Homo sapiens: one gene and its partner. The protein of the gene in region 2 interacts with the protein of the main gene of each other region in a pairwise test. Each region holds a gene or a part of one and is shown on either strand. Other genes may lie near its edges.

Region 1 (8,524 bases), on a different chromosome or scaffold from region 2:
CTCCACGCTGGGGCCTCCCCAGGGAGCCTGAGGTCTCCATGAACAGAGCCAGGTATCCCCAAGAGGCCTCCAGAAACCTGCAGGTGCCCTGCAGAGGGGAGGCCTTGCCATAGCACCAGTGAGTGTATGAGGTCAGCTGGAAGGACAAGAGGCAGGCTGGGCCTCAGGGAGGATCATGGAGTCCTCCTGGGTAGCAGAGGGGTAGCACGTGACCAACAGTGGTGAGGCAGGCAGGCATTGCCCGAGACTGGCCAGACCCCCTCTGTTCTGCTGGCATCTGCAGGGTATACAGAACCTTTCACTAGGCACCTGGGGGCCGCCTGGCATGATGGTTCTGATTAAGGTGTATGATGGGACTTGGGAGAAAGTACTCCCGGGTGACTATGATGTGCACCTGATTAAGAAACACTGATTGGGCCAGGCGCAGAGGCTCACACCTGTAATCCCAGCACTTTGGGAGGCCGAGGCAGGCATATCACTTGAGATCAGGAGTTCAAGTCCAGACTGGCCAACATGGTGAAACCCCATCTCAACTGAAAATAGAAAAATCAGGGCCGGGCGCGGTGGCTCACGCGTGTAATCCCAGCACTTTGGAAGGCTGAGGTGGGTGGATCACCTGAGGTCAAGAGTTCGAGACCAGCCTGGTCAACATGCTAAACCCTGTCTCTATTAAAAATACAAAAATTAGCCAGGCATGGTGGCACGTGCCTGTAATCCCAGCTACTTGGGGGCTGAGGTAGGAGGATCGCTTGAACCTAGGAGACAGAGGTTGCAGTGAGCCAAGATTATGCCACTGCACTCCAGCCTGGGCAACAGAGCAAGACTCTGTCTCAAAAAAAAAAAAAAAAAGAAAAAGAAAAAAAAAATTAGCCTGGCATGGTGGTGCACGCCTGCAGTCCCAGCTACTTGGGAGTCTGAGGTGGAAGAATCACTTTAGTCCAGGAGGCAGAGGTTGCAGTGAGTCGAGATCACACCACTGCACTCCAGGCTGGGTGACAGAGCAAGACTCTGTCTCGAAAAGAAAAAGAAAAAGAAACACTGATTGGCCAGGTGTGGTGGCTCACGCCTCTAATCCCAGCAATTTGGGAGGCCTAAGTGGGAGGACTGCTTGAGTCCAGGAGTTTGAAACCAACCTGGGCAACGTAGTGAGATCTTGTCTCTACAAAAAGTTTTTTCTCCCATCCAAGTACTAACCAGGCCCGACCCTGCTTCAGTTCTGAGATCAGGCAAGATCGGGTGCATTCAGGGTGGTATGGCTGTGGACCAAAAAGGTTTTTCTAAAAATTAGCCAGGCATGGTAGTAGGCACTTGTAGTCCCAGGAGGCTGAGGCTGGAGGATCACTTGAGCCCAAGAGTTTAAGGCTGCAGTGAGCTATGATTATGCCATCCTGCCTGGATGACAGAATGAGACCCCATCTCTTTTTTTTTTTTCCGAGACAGCGTCTCACTCTGTCGCCCAGGCTGGAGTGCAGTGGTGTGATCTCGGCTCACTGCAACCTCCGACTCCCGGGTTCAAGTGATTCTCCTGCCTCAGTTTCCCAAGTAGCTGGGATTACAGGCGCCTGCCACCACGCCCAGCTATTTTTTTGTATTTTTAGTAGAGACGGGGTTTCTCCATATTGGCCAGGCTGGTCTCGAACTCCTGACCTCATGATCTACCTGCCTCGGCCCCCCAAAGTGCTGGGATTACAGGCGTAAGCCACTGCTACCGGCCTTTTTTTTTTTTTTTTTTCTTTCAAGACAGAGTCTCACTCTGTCACTCAGGCTGGAGTCAATCTTGCGATCTTGGCTCACTGCAACCTCCGCCTCCTGAGTTCAAGCAATTCTCATGCCTTAGCCTCCCGAGTAGCTGGGACTTCAGGCATGCACCACCACACCCAGCTAATTTTTTGTATTTTTAGTAGAAGTGAGGTTTCACCATGTTGGCCGGGCTGGTCTCAAACACCTGACCTCAAGTGATCTTCCCACCCCAGCATCCCAAAGTGCTGGGATTACAGGCGTGAGCTACTGTGCCTGGCCGAGACCCCGTCTCCTAAGAAATAAAAAAGAAGAAGAAAGAAAAAATACTGATCTAATCTTACCCCACCTCATTGTACAGCTGGGAAGCTGAGGCACAGAGATGCCCAGGGACTTGCCCAGGCCACATAGTGAGTCAGATGCTGTGTAGACCCTGCTCTCAGGACCACCCATCTGAACCATAGACCACCGTGGGCCACACGGCCCAGTATGGCTGCTCAACAGGGACAGTGATAGGATTCAGCAAGTCCACGCCACAACCTTACCTGAGACCCAAGGCCCTGACTCCTGTCAGGACCAGGTTCACCTGGAACTCCACAGCCTGGGGTGGCACAGCCCAGCTAGAAGCCACCTCCTTCCATCAAGAGCTAGTCACAAGCCTGGGCCATAAAGTGAGACCCTCCCTCCGTCTCTGCAAAAAAATTAAAAATTAGCCAGGCGTGGTGGCGCGTACCTGTTGTCCCAGATAGTCAAGAGGATGAGGCAGGAGGAGTGCTTGAGGCCGGAAGGTGGAGGCTGCAGTGAGCTATGATTGTGCCACTGCGCTCCAGCCTGGGCGACAGAGTGAGACCCTGTTTCCAAAAAAAAAAGAGCCAGTTAAAAGGGTCAGGTCTGGCACTGAACACACGGATCTGGAGGCGATTTGGTTTACTCTCAGGTCAAAGGCAGAGAGGAGGCCAGTCGCGGTGGCTCACGCCTGTAATCCCAACACTTTGGGAGGCTGAGGCAGGGAGGCAGGTGGATCACCTGAGGTCAGGAGTTCAAGACCAGCCTGGCCAACATGGTGAAACCTTGTCTCTACTAAAATCCAAAAAAAAAAAAATTAGCCGGGGGTGGTGGTGGGCGCCTGTAATCCCAGCCGCTCAGGAGGCTGAGGCAGGAGAATTGCTTGAACCCAGGAAGCGGCGGTTGCAGTGAGCTGAGATCACACTACTGTACTTCAGCCTGGGGAACACAGCCAGGCTCTGTCTCAAAAAAAAACAAAACAAAACATGGCAGAGACACAGAAGGCCACATGAAAGCCTCAGGAGGATTTGGGACAGATGCCCAGAGGGTGGATACTGTCACCCACATCCACCACTCCCTCCAATGTGGCCATCTCTCATGGTGATTCAAGGATGGCCACAGCCCATGGACCAGTCTGAGACAGAGGGTGGGGCAGCCTCTGACTTCTTTTTCATGTGGAATCTCCCACAAAAATCCCTCTGACTCATAGCCTGGGCTCCTCCTGCCTCCAGGGTCTTCTCTTTCGCAGGGTCTCTATGCCTCACCACAGACCCCCAGTTTCTGACTTCTCCACCAGTTGAAGAGACATTTGCCCCATGGACCCAGCCTGCCCTTACTCTGTGTCATTAAGACCCTTCCGGTGGGCTGAGTGCAGTGGCTCACGCCTGTAATCCCAGCACTTTGGGAGGCTGAAGCAGGAGAATTCTTTGAGCCCAAGAGTTCAAGACCAGACTGGGCAACATACAGAGACCCCGTCTCTACAAAAAATTAGCCAGGCAGGGTGGTGTGCACCTGTAGGGAGGCTGAGGCAGGAGGATCACTTGAGCTTGGGAGGTGGAGGTTGCAGTGAGCCAAGACCACACCACTGCACTCCAGCATGGGTGACAGAGTGAGACCTTGTCTCAAAAAGACAATAAAAGCCCTTCTTTATTGGGCTGGGCGAGGTTTCCATGCAGTAATCCATCCAATCAGGACGTGCTGCTCAAAGTCTTACATCTTCACCTCAAGTTAATCCAGCAACCACAGAACACCTGCTGACCCCTCCTCCGTGCTGAACTAGGTGCTGGGTTCTTTTATGCATGCGGTGTTTTTTGAGTCTCACATCACACTGGTTTCCCCATTTGACTCAGAGAGGTTCATCAGTTTTCCCAGATTCACACAGTGATAATAGTAAGTGGCCACAGTGAAATTTGAACTTAGGACTTCTGATTCTAAACCAGAGTTTCTTTCACTGGGGCACTGCCTGTCTACTTGGACCTGTGAACTCTCCACTCAGGACCACCATACATTAGTGATAACCATAGCAATACAATTTTTTTGTATTTTGGTAGAGACAGGGTTTCAACCTTCACCATGTTGCCCAGGCTGGTCTCGAACTCCTGACCTCAGTCAATCCACCCACCTTGGTCTCCCAAAGTGCTGGGATTACCAGTGTGAGCCACTGCGCCTGGCCCCAGGTCCTCTTTATACCCTCCCTGGACAACCTAGCCTGCAGTTCCAGCCTCCCCAGAACTCCCAGAGCCTCTCCTGGGGTCCCACATCCCCTCACAGCCTTAAAGAGCCCAGGAAAGAATGTGGCCTCCGGAGCCACGCAGACTTGGCCTTGGAGAAAGTCCTTTAACAGCCCTGCCCCTTCGGGTGCTCGTGAGTGAAATGTGAATAGGATCTTGGAGGGTTGCTGGGAGGATCCCAGCAGACAATGTGCAAAGCATTTAGCACAGTGCCCAGCACCCAGAAAATACTCAGAAACTGAGAATGCGATTAATATTGTTGCCATGAGCCAGGCACGGTGGCTCATGCCTGTAATCTCAGCATTTAGGGAAGCTGAGGCAGGAGGATTGCTTGAGGTTGGGAATTGGAGACCAGCCTGGGCAACATAATGATGCAGAAATACAAAAAGTTAGCCAGGCATGGTGGCGCGCACGTATAGTCCCAGCTACTCGGGAACCTGAGGTGGGAGGATTGCTTGAGCCCAGGACTTGGAAGCTGCAGTGAGCTACGATTGCACCATGGCACTCCAGCCTGGGCAACAGAGTGAGACCCTAAAAAACAATATAGGCCAGGTTCGATGGCTCATGCCTATAATCCCAGCACTTTGGGAGGCCGAGGTGGATGGATCACTTGAGGTCAGGAGTTCAAGAGCTGCCTGCCCAACACGGTGAAACCCCATCTCTACTCAAAATACAAAAAAATTAGCTGGACGTGGTGGCAGACACCTATAACCCCAGCTACTTGGGAGGCTCAGGCACTAGAATCGCTTGAACCCAGAAGGCAAAGGTTGCAGTGAGCCAAGATCGCGCCACTGGACTCCAGGCTGGGTGACAGAGCGAGACTCCATCTCAAAAAACCAGAAAGAGAGAGGACCTAGGGCCTAAGGGGTGAGCTTGCTGGGGAGGAGGAGGGACACATGGGGATGAGGATACGGTGTTAGCAAAGGCAGGCAGGCCAGCAAGAGCAGGAGGCCGGGGAGAGTGGGCCCTCGGGCTTGCTTTGGGAAGGAGGCTGGACATGTGGGCTCTGGACAGGTGGGCCCTGACCCCCAGGGGATCAGGAGCCTGAAATCCTGAAAGGGGGACTCGAAACCTTAAGACAGAGCACTTTTCCAGGGAGCTCAGGAGGCTGAGACAGAAAAGCCTCAGCTTCCAGTGTCAACAGCCTTTTCCCCTCCTTCCAGCCAAAGACAGCAGCATTCCCAAGCGCAAGAGAAAGCGGGTCTCGGAAGGAAATTCCGTCTCCTCTTCCTCCTCGTCTTCCTCTTCCTCGTCCTCTAACCCGGATTCAGTGGCATCGGCCAACCAGATCTCACTCGTGGTAAAGTTGCACCGATTTGGACTCCGGCACTCATCTCTGTGGCCCTCACCCCTCTGTCTGGCAGGGCCGTCTACTCTGGGATGTGGGCCCAGGGGACGGGGAGGCACTGGGCTTTGAGTGGGGACCTTCCGGCCTCGGGGGTTATAGATGCATCCACCTGTCTCACCCAAGAGGTAGCCCATCCTTCTCGTGGGGTACTCACAGGCACTCAGGCAGGAATTCACATCCTCGCTGGGCAGATGGGCCGGCTGAGGTCCACCTGCCCACACCCTTCAGCCGCACCAGAGCTGGAGACATGAAAAGACATGGCTGGCGGGTGCAGTGGCTCACGCCTGTAATCCCAGCACTTTGGCAGGTCAAGTCGGGTGGATCACCTGAGGTCAGGAGTTTGAGACCAGGCTGACCAACACGGGGAAACCCCATCTCTACTAAAAATACAAAATTAGCCGGGCAAAGTGGGGCATAGTGGCTCATGCCTGTAATCCCAGCTACTTGGAAGGCTGAGATAGGAGAATCGCTTGAACCTGGGAGGCAGAGGTTGCAATGAGCCGAGGTCGCGCCATTGCACTGCAGCCTGGGCAACAAGAGTGAAACACTGTCTCAGAAAAAAAAATTAGCCAGGCATGGTGGCACGTGCCTGTGGTCGCAGCTACTTGGGAGGCTGGGGCAGGAGGATCATTTGAGCCCAAGGGGATTGAGGCTGCAGTGAGCCAAGATCGTCCCATTGCACTCCAGCCTGGGCAAGAGAACGAGACTCCATCTCAAAAATAAATAAATAGGCTGGGTGTGGTGGCTCACGCCTGTAATCCTAGCACTTTGGGAGGCCGAGGCAGGCGGATCACTTGAGGCTCAGGAGTTCAAGACCAGCCTGGCCAACATGGCAAAACCCCGTCTCTACTAAAAATAGAAAAATTAGCCGGGCATGGTGGCGGGCGCCTATAATCCCAGCTACTCGGGAGGCTGAGGCAGGAGACTCGCTTGAACCCGCGGGGCCAAGGTTGCAGTGAGCCGAGATTGCATCACTGCACTCCAGCCTGGGCAGAAGAGTGAAACTCCATCTCAAAAAAATAAAAAATATAAATAAATAGCCTCTGAGAAAGCTCTTCCAAAAGCAGAACTAAGCATTTTGGGTTTGTTCCGCATCACCTGGAGTCCTAATCCAGTCCCTTTGTCCCTCTCTCTAGCAATGGCCAATGTACATGGTGGACTATGCCGGCCTGAACGTGCAGCTCCCGGGACCTCTTAATTACTAGACCTCAGTACTGAATCAGGACCTCACTCAGAAAGACTAAAGGAAATGTAATTTATGTACAAAATGTATATTCGGATATGTATCGATGCCTTTTAGTTTTTCCAATGATTTTTACACTATATTCCTGCCACCAAGGCCTTTTTAAATAAGTAAAAAAAGAAAAAAAAAAAAAAGAGTGTTGCCTTTACTTTTACGGTCACTGTTTCATGTTCTCTTTTGGATCGTGGCCGCAGCTGTCACTGGGGACAGGGTCAGGAAACGCAGCTCAGGTGGCCTGCCAAGGCCCTCCTTCTTCATCACAGCAGAGGTAGTGTCCAGGAAGACCCCAGAGCTCTCTGTGCTCCTGGGAGCACGTGACCTCAAGAAGAAAAGCCACGGAAGGAAAATGTGCCACGGGGCCGGGCGTGGTGGCTCATGCCTGGAATCCCAGCACTTTGGGATGTCGAGGTGGGTGGATTGCTTGAGGTCAGGAGTTCGACCTCATTGGCCTGTAATACCGATGCTTTGGGAGGCCAAGGTGGGAGGATTGCTTGAGACCAGGAGTTTGAGATGAGCCTAGGCAACATAGTAGAACCCTTTCTCTAGAAAATGTTAAATGTGGCTTACACCTGTAATCCCAGCACTCTGGGAGGCTGAGGCGGGTGAATCACCTGAGGTCAGGAGTTTGAGACTAGCCTGGGCAACATAAGGAGACCCCGTCTGTACGAAAATGCAAAAATGAGGCCGGGCATGATGGCTCATGCCTGTAATCCCAGCACTTTGGGAGGCCGAGGCGGGTGGATCACCTGAGGTCAGGAGTTCGAGACCAGCCTGGCCAACATGGTGAAACCCCATCTCTACTAAAAATGCAAAAATTAGCCAGGTGTGGTGGCGGGAACCTGTAATCCCAGCTACTCAGGAGGCTGAGGTAGGAGAATCACTTGAACCTGGGAGGCAGAGGTTGCAGTGAGCTGAGACCACGCCATTGCACTGCAGCTGGGGCAAGAAGAACAAAAGTCCGTCTCAAAAAAACAAAACAAAAGCACAAAAATTAGCCAGGCGTGGTGGTGCACACACCTGGAGTCCAGCTACTCAGGAGGCTGAGGCAGGAGGAGGATTGCTTGAGTAAAGATGGTTGAGGCTGTAGTGAGTCATGATTACACCACTGCACTCCAGCCTGGGCGACAAAGCAAGACCCTGTCTCAAAAAAAAAAAAAAGTGTTAAATATGGTAAATGTCAGAGAGGGAGGGGCCCATCCCAGTGAAGCACTGTGGCTGGATGGGAGGCTTCTTCAAAAAGGGGTTTGGAGACCAGGTGCGGTGGCTCACGCCTGTAATCCCAGCACATTGAGAGGCCAAGGTGTGCAGATCGCCTGAAGTCAGGAGTTCGAGACCAGCCCAGCCAACATGATGAAACCCTATCTCTACTAAAAATACAAAAAAATTAGCCAGGTGTGGTGGCGCGCAACTGTAATTCCAGCTACTTGGAAGGCAGAGGCAGGAGAATTGCTTGGACCCAGGAGGCAGAGGTTGCAGTGAGCCGAGACTGTACCATTGCACTCCAGCCTGGGCAACAAGAATGAAACTCCATCTCAAAAAAAAAGGGGGGTGGGGTGGGGGCAGGACAAGTTTTCTTTTTTCAGAGGCAAGTTCTTTCTGTGTCCCCAGGCTGGAATGCAGTGGCACGATCATATCTTCCTGCAGCCTCAAACTCCTGGGCTCAAGTAATCCTCCTGCCTC
Region 2 (9,324 bases):
TAGAGGAATAATGTTTTTCAGTTTGACCATAAAAGAAGGTAGAATTTTTCTCATTCTTTTTCTCTAGGAATAATAAATAAAATAAAAGAGATGGGAGAGATAGGTACTGAACAAATCATAAAGTTAATGTACCTTTTACATAAGGAGTTTGAAATCAACCTAAAAGTAACAGAGATCTAAGACATAGACGGACAATATCAAATAAGAGAATTGGGTTACAGGGAGCTCATTCAGAAAATGAGGAAGAGAATAGGTTGGGTAGAATCAAAAGGGCTGAGGGAGCAAATGGGTAAAGTCTTTATCAAATGGATAATCAAGCTTTAAGGTTTCTGGCTTACAACAATGGTGCTGTCATTCCTGGACAAAGAATATTAAAGAACAGGATTTCATTGGGAATATTAATTGAAAATATAATTTGTTACACTTGAAGCAAATAGATTAAACTATTAGGCTTTTAGTTCTAAGTTATTTGTTCGCTAAGTGATAGCAAGAAAGAACTGCTACAACTCTAGTCAATTATGTACTAACTTAAACTGTTATCTCAGTGTTATGGTGCTCTACTTCATCTCTATTTCCAGACTATAAGGGCATATTTTCTACTTATTTTATCTCCCTTCTTAGTATTTAGTACAATGCTACTCACAGAGTACACACACTAATTCTGAATTCTATGAAGTTAAGACATCTTTCTATAGAGTCATCACCATTCTCAACTTTCTCTGCAGCTAAAATAAATTTAAAACATTATGATAATGTTTTATTAAACAGTTCATCAAAGTCAATAAAAAATCTTTAACATTTAAGTTATATGCTAACCTGGAGAGCACGTTTCATTTTGCGATATAACTTCAGACTCATCTTTTTCACCCGAAATATCCTCTTCATCAGAGAGGACCAGAAAGGCTTCTTTTGGCAAACTCTCACTACTTTCTTGTTTAGATGGTGAACCAAAAGAACTTTCCATTTTCTCTTCCAAATCTGGATTTGTCTCATCGATTGGAAGGAGAGATGTTTTAGAAAAGCAAGTAAGTTCATCCTCAGAAGGTGCAAGCTTTTCCAAAATAGGAATGATTTCATCTGTCTCCATAGAGTCTGTATTTTCTAAGATATTCTCACTTTTGTTATCTTCAATAACATTTTCATTAATCGTTTCTACAAGATCTGCAGAAGTTTCATCTTCATTCTTTTCACCTTGGTCAATTTCCATACTGCTAGATATAGCATCTTCTCCAAGAGCAAGCTCTGTGATAATATCTTCCTCTACCTTCTTTTCATTTTCAGGAGGTCGATCTGAACAAATAGTTGTATCATCTGTTTCTAGAGTTTCTTCATTAGCATCAATATTATTATCAGCTTTATTTTTCTCATCCAATGAGTCTTTACTCTGAATTTGCTCTAATTTTTCATCAGCTCCATTTTTTTCAAGAAAATCATCATCTTTATTGCTACTTGGTTCTATATTGTCAATTTCAGGAACTGGTTCACAAACTGGTACAGACTTTGGTTCAAAGGTACGATCAAAGGTTGATTCAGAAGTCAGCTCATCAGAGGCCAGTTCACCAGTGGCCAGATCATCAGAGGCCAGTTCACTAGAGGATAGATCACCAGAGGCCAGATCATCAGAGGCTGGATCAGTGGAAGCTGGTGCTCCAGAAGCCAGATCAACAGAAGTTATTTCACTAGAGGCTATATCATCAGCGGCACAATCACCAGAAATGGGTTCAACAGGGACCGGTTCACCTGGGATGGGATCACTAGAGGTGGGATCACCAGAGGAGAGATCATCAGCAGTGGCATCACCAGAGGTGGCATCACCAGGGGACACATCACCAGAAGGGGCATCACCAGAGGTTGCATCACCAGAGGCAGCATCACTAGAGGAGGGCTCGCTAGAGGTGGGATCACCAGAGGTGGAATCACCAGAGGCCAGTACTCCGGAGGCTGGATCTCCGGCATCCAGATCACCAGGGGCTGGATCACCAGAAACTGGTTCAGCAGGCAGTTTAGAGACTGGTTCTGGAGTTATATTATGGGGAGACAAAGGTTCACAATTTAAATCATCATCCTGCTTGTTTTTTACATTAACACTTAGGATACAGGGTGTTTCCTTCCATTCTGCTTTACTTCCTTCAGGATCAAAACAAATCTCTTCAATGCCATTCACCTCTTCCTTGTCTTTAATGTAATCCATGTTTTCCAAAGGTGAGGTTGGGTCCAAATCTCCATTTTCATGGTTGCCATTTAACAGCTTGACATCAGTTTTCAACAGTTCTTCTTTGACCTTGTACACTGCTTCAAGTTGCTGACGATCACTCACTCTCATCGTTTTTCGAGCCTTAAAGACTTTTTTCTGAGGTTCTTCTAAACTGTCCATTCTGAATCTTTAAGAAAAAAGAGAAAGAGAGTTTAATAACTGAAACAGAAGCCACCTAATTGTAGACTTAATACAAATTGATCTTAGAAGAGATGCAAGCAGCACATTTCATGTAATGTTTAAGACATAGAAAACCTACTGCTTGTTGTATACTAATTATCATATTTACTGCATCTGTGTAATACAAAATCAAAAATGGCCATAGTCTACTAGAAAATCAACTAGAAAGTATTAGGGGGAAAAGGGACAAGTTTTTTTTTCCAATATGGAATTCACAGAGTATGGAGATGTTTAAGCAAAAAAAAGGTAGATAAAGTAAAAAAAAAAAAAAAAAAAAAAAAGTACCTGAAGAAAATGAGAAAGAAAAATAAAAGTGTAAGAACAACAGTAGGGAAATAACAGGTATAGAGATAAAGGAAAAAGGAGGAAGAATTAAGAAACATGTAAGGAAAGATTACATTTGCAACCAAGCATACTTAGATTGGCAGAACTATAAACATATTAACAAAAGATTACCATCAAGAAAGAAAATTCACAACAATGGGAGAAAATATTTGCAAATCATATGCCTGATAAGACTTTTATCTCGAATCTAGAATTTCATATCTAGAATACAGAATATATATTTATATAGAATACAGACTTTTATATCTAGAATATCTAAGAACTGCTATAATTCAATAATAAATCACCCAATTTAAAAATGGTCAAAGGACTTGAACAGACATTTCCAGAAAGAGACCCCTAAGCCAAAAGTCCATAAGCAATAAACATCATGAGACATCAGGGAAACGCAAGTCAAAACCACAATGAAATAACACTGCACACACGACAGGACGGCTACAATCAACGAGAATAATGAGTGTTGGCAAGGATGTGAAAAAACTGGAACTTTCATACAATGATAGTGGGATTGCAAATAGGTGCAGCTGCTTTGGAAAACAGGCAGTTCCACAATATGTGAAGTACAGAGTTGTCATATGACCCAGTGATTCCATTCCATTCATTTCCCAAGAGAAATGAAAACATATGTCCACACAAAAACTTGTACACAAATGCTCTATAGAGGCACTACTCATAATGGCCCAAAACTGGAAACAACCTAAATGTTCCATAACTGATGAATGGATAAATAAAATGTGCCATACCCCTACAACAGAATATCATTCAACCACAAAGGGGAATGAAGTACTGAACATGCTACTACATGCATAAACCTTAAAAATATGCTGAGTGAGAGAAGCCAGTCACAAAAGGCCACATACTGAATGATTCAATTTATATGAAATGTCCAGAGTAGGCAAATCTAGAGACAGAAAGTAAATCAGTGACTACCTAGGGTTGGAAGATTCTGGAGAAAATGAGGAGTAGCTGCTAAAGGGTACAGGATTTCTTTACAGGGTTATGAAAATGTTCTAACATTGATTATGGTGATGATTATACAGCTCTGTGAATATACTAAAAATAACTGAATTGTACTTTAAGTGGGTGAATAGTAGATATGTGGTTTTATCTCAGTAATGCCACTACAAAAAAATTTCAAAATAAATACAAAGGTTGTGTGTGTGTGTGTGTGTGTGTGTGTGTGTGTGTGTGTGTGTGTATTCTCTTTTTTTGGTAAGTTGTGCTACAGTTTTATCAATTCTATTCACTTATTAAAGTATGAACCTTTACTTGGCTGATATTTCTTGGTTTTATATCTGCTTTCTTGTTTTAATTATTTACTCTAATATTTATTATCTCTTTTCACTTACTTTTTCTTGGAAAGAGCTTAACATGTCATCCTTTTCCTTGAGATTCAAGCTTAAGTGTTATTTTCAATCTTTCTTCTTTTGTAATGTGTGCATATAAAGCTATAAATTTCCCTCTAAGAGCTGCTTTAGTTGCATCTCACATTTTAATGTGTCATTTACATTATTCTGTTAAAATATTTTCTAATTTCCATCATGATTTCTTCTTTCATCTATGACTTATTTAGAAGTAGGTTTCTTAAAAAGGTAATGAATTCTGACCAAGTGAAGCTCGCTTAGAAAAATACAAGGCTGATTTCACATTCAAAAATCAAGCAGTGTTGACCATGAACAAGCCATGATGCATTCTGACTTTATTTCATGCCCAGCAGAGTGTACAATTACGAGTTTTGCCTAAACTGAATGTCTGGTACCAGGATGTTACTGACTGAATTGTGCAGCATCCCACACCCCACATCCCCAGAAAGATATTAGTCTTAAGCCCCAGTACCTCAGAATGTGACCTTATTCGGATAGGGCCTTTACAGTGGTAATCAAGGTAATATAAGGGTACTAAAGTGAGCCCTAATCCAATACAATTGGTGTCCTTATAAAAAGGGGAAAATCTGGACACAGACAGACATGCACACTGGGAGAATGCCATGTGACAATTGAAGTTATGGTACCACAAGCCAAGCAACTACCAGAAGCTAGGAGAGAGGCCTGGAACAGATCCTTCCCTCAGCACCCTCAGAGGGAGAATGGCAATGACAACACCGTGATTTCAAATGTGTTGCCTCCAGAACTCTGAGACGATAAACTTCTGTTAAGCAAAAAAGAAAACCACAAAACAAATCAAGCTATTTAATTCACCACATAAACAGAACAGAGGGACAAAATCAACAAAGGATTACCTCAACAAATACAGAATATTCATTTGACAAAATTCAAGACTGATGCATAATTACAACTTGCCAGAAACTAAGAATACAAGGAAACTTACTCAAATCTGATAAAGGTTATCTACCAAGAAAACTAGAGATATCATGTCTGATATTGAAATAGGATCAGAAGAAAACAAGGATGTTTCCTGTAACCATTTCCTTGTTAACATCTGGCCAGTGCAATAAAGGCAAACAAAAGAGCACAAGGATGTGGTTCTGAAGAAAAACAATGTCATCAATCAATAGTAGAATAAAACAAAATTGCTTTAAGGACTAAGATGTACAGGAGGCAGGAATACTGTTTTCACATTGGATAGTCACTTACCATTACCATCACCAGTAGGAATGATATGGTAGAATACATTTGCTTTGGCCTGAGAAAGAAAGAAAAGCAGCCCCTGATGCCTGGAAACTTAACTGATACTCACAGTTAGGGCTCAATGTTGTTAATGGATCTGATGCTTACAGTTAAGCCATGCTGTTCTCTGGTTGGACATAAAACCAACTCAGAGAACATTCAAGTCAGACAAGGTCACTGTGCAACCCACAAAATTCCAAACATCCCCCCTCACTAAATGAGTGATGGCTATTTCTTTATTTTTTTTTTCTTTTTGAGACGGAGTCTCGCTCTGTCGCCCAGGCTGGAGTGCAGTGGCGTGATCTCGGCTCACCGCAAGCTCCACCTCCTGGGTGCATGCCATTCTCCTACCTCAGCCTTCCGAGTAGCTGGGACCACAGGCGCCCGCCACCACGCCCGGCTAATTTTTTGTATTTTTAGTAGAGATGAGGTTTTACCGTGTTAGCCAGGATGGTCTTGATCTTCTGACCTCGTGATCCACCTGCCTCGGCCTCCCAAAGTGCTGGGATTACAGGTGTGAGCCACCACACCAGGCCAACTTCTTTATCAATTACAGCTTTATCTTGTAATAGTCTGTCCTCCCTATATAGATAAAATTTATTGAGATACCCAAGAATAGAAGTGCCCCCACTTTCTGATGTCACCCAATCCACGATAAGGATCTACTTCCTTAATCTCTCCCCAAAATAACCCAACCTATACTATACTCAAATCCTATACTAGGTTTTTTCTAACATCCTCTTACTGATTGATGTGCCTTACAGTTTCCCCATAGTGAACATTATTTCCTCCCTGCAGCAAATAGTAAACCTAACTTTTTCAATTACAAAGGTGTTCCTGCTGGTCTTTGGCTGAAGCGCATAAAATAATAAGCCTAGCCTACTTGCTGGAAGCCAATTCAGCTTGAGATTCTAGCACTTTGTCAGAGAATTTCTAGACTGTGATACATTCTGTATTCATTCTCTCACTTTAAGCCAATTACTTAGAACATATTTCTTATTCTAGCCATTTTATTTAAATTATATAACTAAATCAACTATTTAGAAAAATTACTCTTCATTTAAACAGAAACCTTAATACAAAATGTATATATAATAATACAAAACCTTAATACAAAATTATACAAAATTTGTATAATATAATACAAAACATTATGTTAAGGGTTTTTAATTACAGACTAAAATTTCACACCTTCAAGGTTTTTCCCTTCCCATCATTACAAAGTTTTGCTAACTGCAAAATTTTCTGCAAAAGATACAGATACAATGCATTGTATTTTGCTGTCACTTTTCCTTACTAATTCCAAAACTACAAAATAATTAAGTTTATAATATAAGTAGTATAGTTACCCTTTAAGTATTTCAAAATACTGAAAGGCCATTCTTTTGAACTTTAGCCTCATAATATCCGCATTTCTCAGATATTAGATGGACAGCTGGTAGTTATTACCAATTGCATTAAAAGTATTCCTTTTAAAAAATTCATAACTTTTAATAACCCAATTAAGAACATGAACTCTTACATTAAAAGTAAGCATTCCTTTAAAAAAATTCATCACTTTTAATAACCCAATTAAGAACATGAACTCTGTAGACTGTAGACAGATTCACAGATTTGAATTCCAACTCTCCCAGGAAACCTACTGTGTGAGACTGGGCAAATTACCTAACATCAATTTCTTAGTTTTGGTTACCTTAAAAAGGGACTAATACCAACACCTGTCACAAAGGTTGCCATGAGAACTAAATGAGATTCTATACATTAAGCACTTGGAATGTAGTAAGAACTCAATAAATGGTATAACCATCACCATCTATATATTCAGGATAACGTTTTTAGGAATAAACTAAATATTCAGGATAATGTTTTTAGGAATAAACTAAAGAGTCTAAGACAAATTCCTCTTTGGTATTTTTTATATAAATTAGAAAATCCAACATGTAAACCTCACAGTTAATATTAAATTGCCACCACCAAATAATATTTAATAAAAATATATAATTCAAGAAAAGTTGATTTTATCAATAAAATTGTCATTAACTTCAGTAATAATAAAGCACTCTAAAAAGAATTATAGAATAACTACCATCCATACCCACAAGGGAGCACACTACAGCCATTTACCAGATCTTATGGGTTCTAAATATAATAAAAAACAGACAAAGCAATAAGGAAGTAACACGAACAATTAGTTCAAACTAGTTCAGCCATATCTGTACAAACCAATCAGCAGTCTGCTTTTAGAAATGTATTTTGCATTAGCGAAGCATATTTGAGAAAGATACACATTAGAGAAGGGTGTGTTACCTGCAAACAAGTTTCCATGGCTGTAATACCAGTGCAAAACACTTCCAAGGATCATTTTAGTACTGTCGCCTAGAACTAAGATGCCATTCATAAAACTATTCTATAAAATAAATGTTAGTATTTTAGGTGGCAACTCAAATCAGAAAGCTTTCACATGACTGTAATTCATTTTCACAGAAAAAAGCATTGGTATTTTACGGCAGAAGATGTCTGCCATGTCTAAAAGTAACTGCAAAACATGATGAACTAGTTTCTCCTGAAAGTATTTTTTTCATGAGGATGAGAGTCAAAATAATGTTTTTTAAGTCTCTGTATATTCAAGAACTCTGGGAAAATAATATCACTAATAAAACCTTTTTCTATAGAAATTTATATTTAAATAACCAGAGAAGGGTATGTTACCTGCAAATAAGTCTCTCTGGCTTGGAAATTTTTTTTTCAAATTTTTGGTAAATTATTTTTAAAATATTTTTAAGGAAAGCCCAACGAGCTTCTTCTTTAAATGAAAACATTACTCTCTTCTCTGCTTCATCCCCCTCCACCCACTTCTTTCTAGCAAGAGATCATAGCAATGAAACAACAAAGGGAAGCTGTTATGTCTTAGCCTACAATCTGCCTGCTCAAAAAGCTCAAGAATTTAAATGGCTGTTCAAGAGCTGCTCACAAACTCAGCCAATCAGCAGCCAGCATTCTGATTCCTGCCCAGCAACAGGAGACAGACAATAAGGTCAGAAAAACATAGTTAAACAAAAACTGTATCTGCAATACTTAAGTGTGGTTCTTTGTTTGAAATAAGTAATCTAGAACACAGTTTACATAAAACCCTAAATCCACGTAACACGCATTAAATATACCACACACATAAATGGATAAGATTTACATCTTTTATGCTATTTGCTTTAATAAATATCCATGAACATTTCAAGAAATATACATTAATATAAATTAATTTCCTACCTGAGGAATAAGTCAAACATGGACAATATACGTAAGAACATATTTTTCTATACAATGCAAAATTCAAATGTAAATTTCTTTTTAAAAATTCCATAGACCATACATATAAAATATATAAATCTAGCAAAACCTTAAATCCAGACAAGTAAAAAAAAAATCTTCATACCCATCTACCACTATTGTTACAGATTTCCGATTCCAAAAATTAATAGTATTCTGGACCCAAAGGATTACTAGGGATAGTATTATGAAGTGTTGTGCTGTCTACTGCACTGAACTGACTTAGTTTAATTCATCTAATGAAATCTAAATGTCTGATTCTGGACAACCTATATTAAGTGGTATAAGTACAATTACTACATCCTTTTCTCCTTAACTGCCTTTCGCAGCAAGTTACAAAAGGTTATATGAGATATCCTTTCAAAGCTTTATTATAAAACAAATGTGTGGATTACAAAGTAAATATTCATGAAAATTAAAGACATTTTTATTATATTACACCATTCTATAGTTCTTTAAATATAGGATTATAAAATAAAAATGGAAAATTTGTTATCAGAATTTTTTTCTCAAATTCACTACTTATTAGGTGTTCTTAATAACCAAGTTTTAAAAATAAACCTCATTTCCCCCCTTCCTTACAGATGAACCTTG

The links. Proteins that work in one complex are often made in the same cells at the same time.
Region 1: the proteins of ATF7IP (region 2) and GTF2IRD1 interact in binary tests that used the Homo sapiens proteins (3 or more experiments, as listed by UniProt).

The regions. Positions count from the first base shown.
Region 1 is NC_000007.14:74,595,628-74,604,151, forward strand, and holds the end of GTF2IRD1 (general transcription factor II-I repeat domain-containing protein 1), read left to right. Parts: intron 1-340; exon of another isoform or gene 341-399; intron 400-5,416; coding exon 5,417-5,553; coding exon of another isoform or gene 5,554-5,670; exon of another isoform or gene 5,671-6,667; intron 6,668-6,737; coding exon 6,738-6,806; 3' UTR 6,807-6,978; downstream 6,979-8,524. UniProt on the Homo sapiens protein: May be a transcription regulator involved in cell-cycle progression and skeletal muscle differentiation. May repress GTF2I transcriptional functions, by preventing its nuclear residency, or by inhibiting its transcriptional activation.
Region 2 is NC_000012.12:14,416,966-14,426,289, reverse strand, and holds part of ATF7IP (activating transcription factor 7-interacting protein 1), read right to left. Parts: intron 8,323-9,324; exon of another isoform or gene 7,714-8,322; intron 7,077-7,713; exon of another isoform or gene 6,929-7,076; intron 2,382-6,928; coding exon of another isoform or gene 2,375-2,381; coding exon 817-2,374; intron 1-816. UniProt on the Homo sapiens protein: Recruiter that couples transcriptional factors to general transcription apparatus and thereby modulates transcription regulation and chromatin formation. Can both act as an activator or a repressor depending on the context.